Linked DNA regions of Homo sapiens: region 1 is linked to region 2. A link means that fine-mapping ties the variant in region 2 to the expression of a gene that starts in the linked region. Tissue or cell type: whole blood. Region 2 holds a variant in brackets; the other region holds the start of a gene. All regions are shown on one strand. Distances are between the middles of the regions. Region 1 holds the start of LRWD1 (leucine rich repeats and WD repeat domain containing 1). Region 2 overlaps ORAI2 (ORAI calcium release-activated calcium modulator 2).

Evidence for each region. PIP is the estimated chance that this variant, and not a neighbour inherited with it, causes the effect. A credible set is the group of variants that fine-mapping cannot tell apart.
Region 1: it holds the start of LRWD1, and the variant in region 2 is the best candidate, but not a certain one, in a credible set for the expression of LRWD1 in whole blood (INTERVAL, PIP 0.67).

The regions. Positions count from the first base shown.
Region 1 is chr7:102,463,596-102,466,387 of GRCh38, forward strand. It overlaps LRWD1 (leucine rich repeats and WD repeat domain containing 1), which reads left to right and starts at 1,389. Exons shown (of 15, transcript NM_152892.3): 1 at 1,389-1,565; 2 at 2,222-2,456; 3 at 2,559-2,675. The coding sequence starts at 1,486. It overlaps ALKBH4 (alkB homolog 4, lysine demethylase), which reads right to left and starts at 1,268. Exons shown (of 3, transcript NM_017621.4): 1 at 1,119-1,268. The coding sequence starts at 1,241. It overlaps MIR5090 (microRNA 5090), which reads left to right and starts at 2,147; the gene lies at 2,147-2,231. RefSeq lists enhancers at 1,011-1,660, 1,790-2,316, 1,940-2,039, 2,317-2,792 and a silencer at 1,170-1,599.
Region 2 is chr7:102,441,450-102,444,256 of GRCh38, forward strand. All of the region lies in intron 3 of ORAI2 (ORAI calcium release-activated calcium modulator 2), which reads left to right. Among named protein-coding and RNA genes, the nearest start is that of ORAI2, 9.3 kb to the left of the region's middle. The variant T/TTTCTTC (reference allele first, on the strand shown) is at 1,640.

The DNA of each region.
Region 1 (2,792 bases), 22 kb after region 2:
CTGGGATTACAGGCGTGAGCCACTGAACCCGGCCCAGGTATCTTGATAGATGCTTGGTTTGCTTCCATCTTTGGGCTGTCATGAATAATGTCGTGAATATGAACATGGGTGTGCAAATATCTCTTCCAGACCCTGCTTTTAGTTCCTTTGGATATATACCCAGAAGCAGGATTGCGGATCATGGGTAATTCTATGTTTAATTCATGAGGCATGCCATGCTGTTTCCATAGGACCTTGGGCACTTTTACCATGGACGTTGGGGCAGTCTTCACTGGCTTACCAGCCTCCACACCTTCATATCTGCCCGTTCCCTTCCCAGGATCTTTCTAAAATTCACATTTGACTTCATCACTCCTTTAAAACCCTTCAAGAGCTCTCCAGGGCCTTTGGGACAAGTCCAGCCTGCTCAGCTGATGCACCGGGGAGCATCTGTGATCAGACCTCCCCCCCCCCACAACCTCTCCAGCCTCATCTCTCTCACCTGAGGCATCACCAATCCACCTTCCTACCCCACGCAGTTTTCTGGGTTGGAATGCCCTTGCAACCAACCACAGTCCTTCCATGCCAGCCCAAAGGCGCTGAGTTCTTTTTCTTTTTTTATTTATTTTCTTTTTGTGAGACAGAGTCTCGCTCTGTCGCCCAGGCTGAAGTGAGGTGGCTCGATCATAGCTCACTGCAGCCTCCAGCTCCTGGGTTGCAGCGATCCTTGAGTTCCTTTTCGTTAGTTAACTGGAATTCACTGTCTCCTTGCCCATTGCAGTCCACGGCCTTCAGGCACCGTTGGACTGGTATTCAGCACCCTCGATCGACCCTTTCCGTGTCATCTCCCTGCAGGCCCGTGAAGCTCCCAGCGCCAGACCCGAGAGGCTACGTCGAGGTTTACAGGCAGATCCCCCCAGAGTCCCCGAGGTGACCTGTAATCGAACCCACCCACGTTCCAGCTCCTTCCCCACTCCCAAGCCCGCTCCTTAAAGCCCTCATCTCCTCACCCTGCATCACCCCTACCGTAAGGGTCCCTCACAGGCTTCGATCCCGGCCCCTATCATGGCCAAGCTGGACCTCAGTTTCCCCAGATGCAGAGCGACGTTTGTGGGCGCGGCCCCTCTCCCACCCCTTACCGCTGGGGGCAGCTCCCAGGGCGGGTCACTGCCGCGCTGCCGCTCGCAGATCAGACAGGTCCGGATGCCCTTGCAACCGCATTCCCGAAGGACTTCGGGGGTCTCGGCGGCAGCCGCCGCCATCGCGCCGTCCGCGTGGCCAGTGCGCAGGCGCGGCCGTGGGGGCCGCTGGGAGTTGTAGTCCGCGCCGGGCGGGGGCACGAGGCCTGGGTTCCGCTTCCTTCCGGTCGTTAACGCCCACGGGCTCGCGCGGCGCCGCCTCCTGGGCTCAGTTACCGCGGACGCCAGTGCCGGGCTCCAGGAGACGCAGGGCGACGCCACACGCCGGGGTGGCCGACTGGGTCAGCGCGGGCTGCGCCTCCTCGCCATGGGCCCCCTCTCGGCGCGGCTGCTAATGCAGCGCGGGCGCCCCAAGAGCGACCGGCTGGGGAAGATCCGGAGTCTGGAGTAAGAGCCGGGCAGCGGGTGAGGCTGTGTCCTCGGGGCCGGGCGGTCGGGGAGAAGAGCGGGGACCCTCCCCAACGGCCCGCTTGTCCCCGTTATCGCCCTCTGGGTTCGGCAGAGTGGTCCAAATGTCTTCTTGTTGGGAGATCGTGGCCCCACCCGCTCGCCGGGAGCCCCGAGGGGCCTCATCCCCTGAAGGGAGCCCGGACAGTTAGGGGCACAGCCTGCCGCTATCGTTAGAGGGCCTGGGAAGCACAGACGAGCCCCCGAAGGATCAGGAAGAGCATCCTAGAGGGGGCTAGGATGCCCCCGAGTCCTAAAGTAGTTGCAGCTTTTTTTTTTTTTTTTTTTTTTTTTTTTTTTTTTTTGTTAAGTGGTGTGGAGTCGGGAGTAGTGGCGCGCGCTTCTAGTCCCAGCTACTCGAGAGGCTGAGGCGGGAGGATCCCTCAGCCCAGGAGTTGGAGGCAGCTGTGAGCTATGATCGCGCCTAGGCGACTGAGTGACACCCCGTCTCTAAAAATAAAGTAACGGGGGGATGGGCGGGGCGGCTACACTTGTACGAGAAATGTCAGGTGAAAAAGCCTTCTGAGGTACCCGGGGCAGATTGGTGTAGGGTGCAAAGCCTGCCCGCCCCCTAAGCCTTCTGCCCCCAACTCCAGCCTGTCAGGATTGGAGCTGCTTTCCGAGCACCTGGACCCCAAACTCCTGTGCCGCCTGACGCAGCTGCAGGAGCTTGACCTGTCTAACAACCACCTGGAGACGCTGCCGGACAACCTGGGCCTGTCCCACCTGCGTGTCCTCCGCTGCGCCAACAACCAGCTGGGGGATGTTACTGCCTTGTGCCAGTTCCCCAAGCTCGAGGAACTCAGCCTGGAGGGCAACCCCTTCCTGACGGTAAGTGGGAGCCTCCCACCAGCTTCATACCTGGGGCCAGGACTCTGTTGGGCTCAGGCTCAGCATCTCCTGAGCCACTGCTCTTCACCCTCTCTTCCCCAGGTCAATGACAACCTGAAAGTCTCCTTTCTCCTGCCCACGCTCCGTAAGGTCAATGGCAAGGATGCGTCCTCAACTTACTCTCAGGTGGAGAACCTGAATCGGGAGCTGACCAGCAGGGTAAGGGGATGAGAGGATTATTGTGTGCTTAGGAGCTGTGGGGGCATTGGGAGAATGATAGAATTGGACATCAGGAGGATGTTGAGGAGGGTGACTGATAGAGGCTCTTTGCCCCAA
Region 2 (2,807 bases):
AATTGCTTGAACCCGGGAGGCGGAGGTTGCACTGAGCCGAGATTGCATCACTGCACTCCAGCCTGGGCCATAGAGCGAGACTGCATCTCAAAAAAAAAAAAAAGAAAAAAAAAAAACCAGAGGTGGCTCTTGCTATGTTGCCCAGGCTGGTTTTTTTTTTCTTTAATTATTGTTATTTTTTTCTTCACCTTATACCAAGGGAGAAATATTGTTGTTTCATTTTGTTTTTTTCCCCCAAGTATTTTTGACCTGCGGTTGGTTGAATCTGCAGATGTGGAACTCATAGATACAGAGCACCAGCTGCAGTGGGAAGCAAGTGAACCATCTGGCGTGGAGCTGAGCCTTGGGGGAGCCGCAGTGCACCTGCTTGATTAGATTAGCATAGCGCCATCCGGTCAGATCGTTCTTCACACTGCAGGGCAGCCTGGGAAAAATAAGTGACAAATACAAATCATCAGAAACTGTAGCTGAGTCGGGGCAGGGCCCTGGGAACAGGCAAAGGTACAGATTGCTGGGTAGAGTTCGCCCTTTATAGTGTGTCTTCCCTCATTAGAATTGCAAAGCTGTTCCTTTGTCTAGCAACACGTGCTTATGCCTAACCTGAAGCTTAGTTCTTGATGCGTATTCTTCCCCCAACACAGAGAACCAGTGATCCAAGGCCCCACCTCATAAAACCTCTGCATAGGCCAGGCGGGGTGGCTCACGCCTGTAATCCCAGCACTTTGGGAGGCTGAGGTGGGCGGATCACTTGAGGTCAGGAGTTCCAGATCAGCCTGGCCAACATGGGGAAACCCTGTCCCTACTAAAAATATGAAAAGGAGGGCCGGGCGCCATGGTTCATGCCTATAATCCCAGCACTTTGGGAGGCCACGGTGAGCAGATCACTTGAGGTCAGGAGTTGGAGACCAGCCTGGCCGATCTGGTGAAACACTGTCTCTACTAAAAATACAAGAATTAGGCTGGGCGCAGTGGCTCACACCTGTAATCTGAGCACTTTGGGAGGCCGAGGCGGGCAGATCACGAGGTCAGGAAATGGAGACCATCCTGGCTAACACAGTGAAACCCCATCTCTACTAAAAATACAAAGATCAGCCATGCGTGGTGGCACACGCCTGTAGTCCCAGCTACTCGGGAGGCTGAGGCACGAGAATCACTTGAACCCGGGAGGCAAAGGTTGCAGTGAGCCAAGATCGCTCTACTGCACTCCAGCCTCGGTGGCAGAGCAGGACTCCGTCTCAAAAAACAAAAAAACAAAAATTAGCCAGGCGTGGTGGCTGGCACCTGTAACCCCAGCTTCTCGGGAGGCTGAAGTGGGAGGATCACTTGAATCCGGAAAGGGGAAGTTGGAGTGAGCCGAGAACATGCCACTGCACTCCACCCTGGGCAACAGAGAGGGAGACTCCGTCTCAAAAAAAAAAAAAAACATTAGCCGTGGTGGCGCATGCCTGTAGTCCCAGCTATTGGGGAGACTGAGGAAGGAGAATCACTTGAACCCGGGAAGCAGAGGTTGCAGTGAGCCGAGACAGCGCCACTGCACTCCAGCCTGGGCAACAGAGCAAGACTCTGTCTCAATAAAAAAAAAAAAATTAATTTAAATTTAAAAAATGCTGCATAAACACAGTGAAAAATTGCCTTCTCT[T/TTTCTTC]TTCTTCTTCTTCTTCTTCTTCTTCTTCTTCTTCTTCTTCTTCTTTTTTTTTTTTTTAATAGAGATGGGGTCTCGTTTTGTTGCCTGGGCTGGTCTTGAACTCCTGGGCTTAAGTGATCTCCCGCCTCAGCTTCCCAAAGTGCTGAGATCACAGGTGTGAGCCACCTCACTCAGCCCCTTTTCTCCTTTTTTTTTTTTTTTTTTGAGACGGAATCTTGCGCTGTCTGTCGCCCAGGCTGGAGTGCAGTGGCGCGATCTCGGCTCACTGCAAACTCCACCTTCCGGGTTCACGCCATTCTCCTGCCTCAGCCTCCCAAGTAGCTGGGACTACAGGCGCCCGCTTTTCTCCTTTTAAGGTGGAACAAAACCACTTTTTGCAAGCCCTGCCCCTACCTCATAATCATCTTTATTTCCTGTCTTGGAGGCCTCTGTGGTTTGTAATATTTGTCACTTGGGCCATTTCCTTTGAGGTGACCATAGCCAACCCAGGGCCACACTGAGAAAAACCACCCCTCAGCCCATGTTCCGTGGCTACTGGTTTTTGGATACGTTTCACAAGGGCCCCAACTGTATTACTGCTGAGTTGTTTTTCGGCTCTGGTCCACTAGGACTGCCATGTCTTCTTTTTTCTTTTTTGAGATGTAGTCTCGCTCTGTCTCCCAGGCTGGAGCACAATGGCACGATCTTGGCTCACTGCAACCTTTGCGTCCCGGGTTCAAGAGATTCTCCTGCCTCAGCCTCCCGAGTAGTTGGGATTACAGGCACCCACCACCACGCCCAGCTAATTTTTGTATTTTTAGTAGAGATGGGGTTTTACCATGTTGGTCAGGCTGGTCTCGAACTCCTGACCTCAGGTGATCCGCCCACCTCGGCCTCCCAAAGTGCTGGGATTACAGGCACCCGGCCATATCTTCTTTTATCTAGGAAGTGTTCCCTCACCACTGAAAGCGAGGTGAAGAAATGAGCTGCTAAGAGGTGGCAGTTGCTGAAGGACATTATGAAATCTTCATATATATTATTTTATTTTATCTTTTACTTTATTTTTTCCCCAGACAGGATATCGCTCCATTGCCCAGGCTGGGGTGCAGTGGTACATTCATAGCTCACTGCAGCCTCTAACTCCGGGGCCCAGCCTTGTGAGTTATTTTTTTATTTTATTTTATTTTAT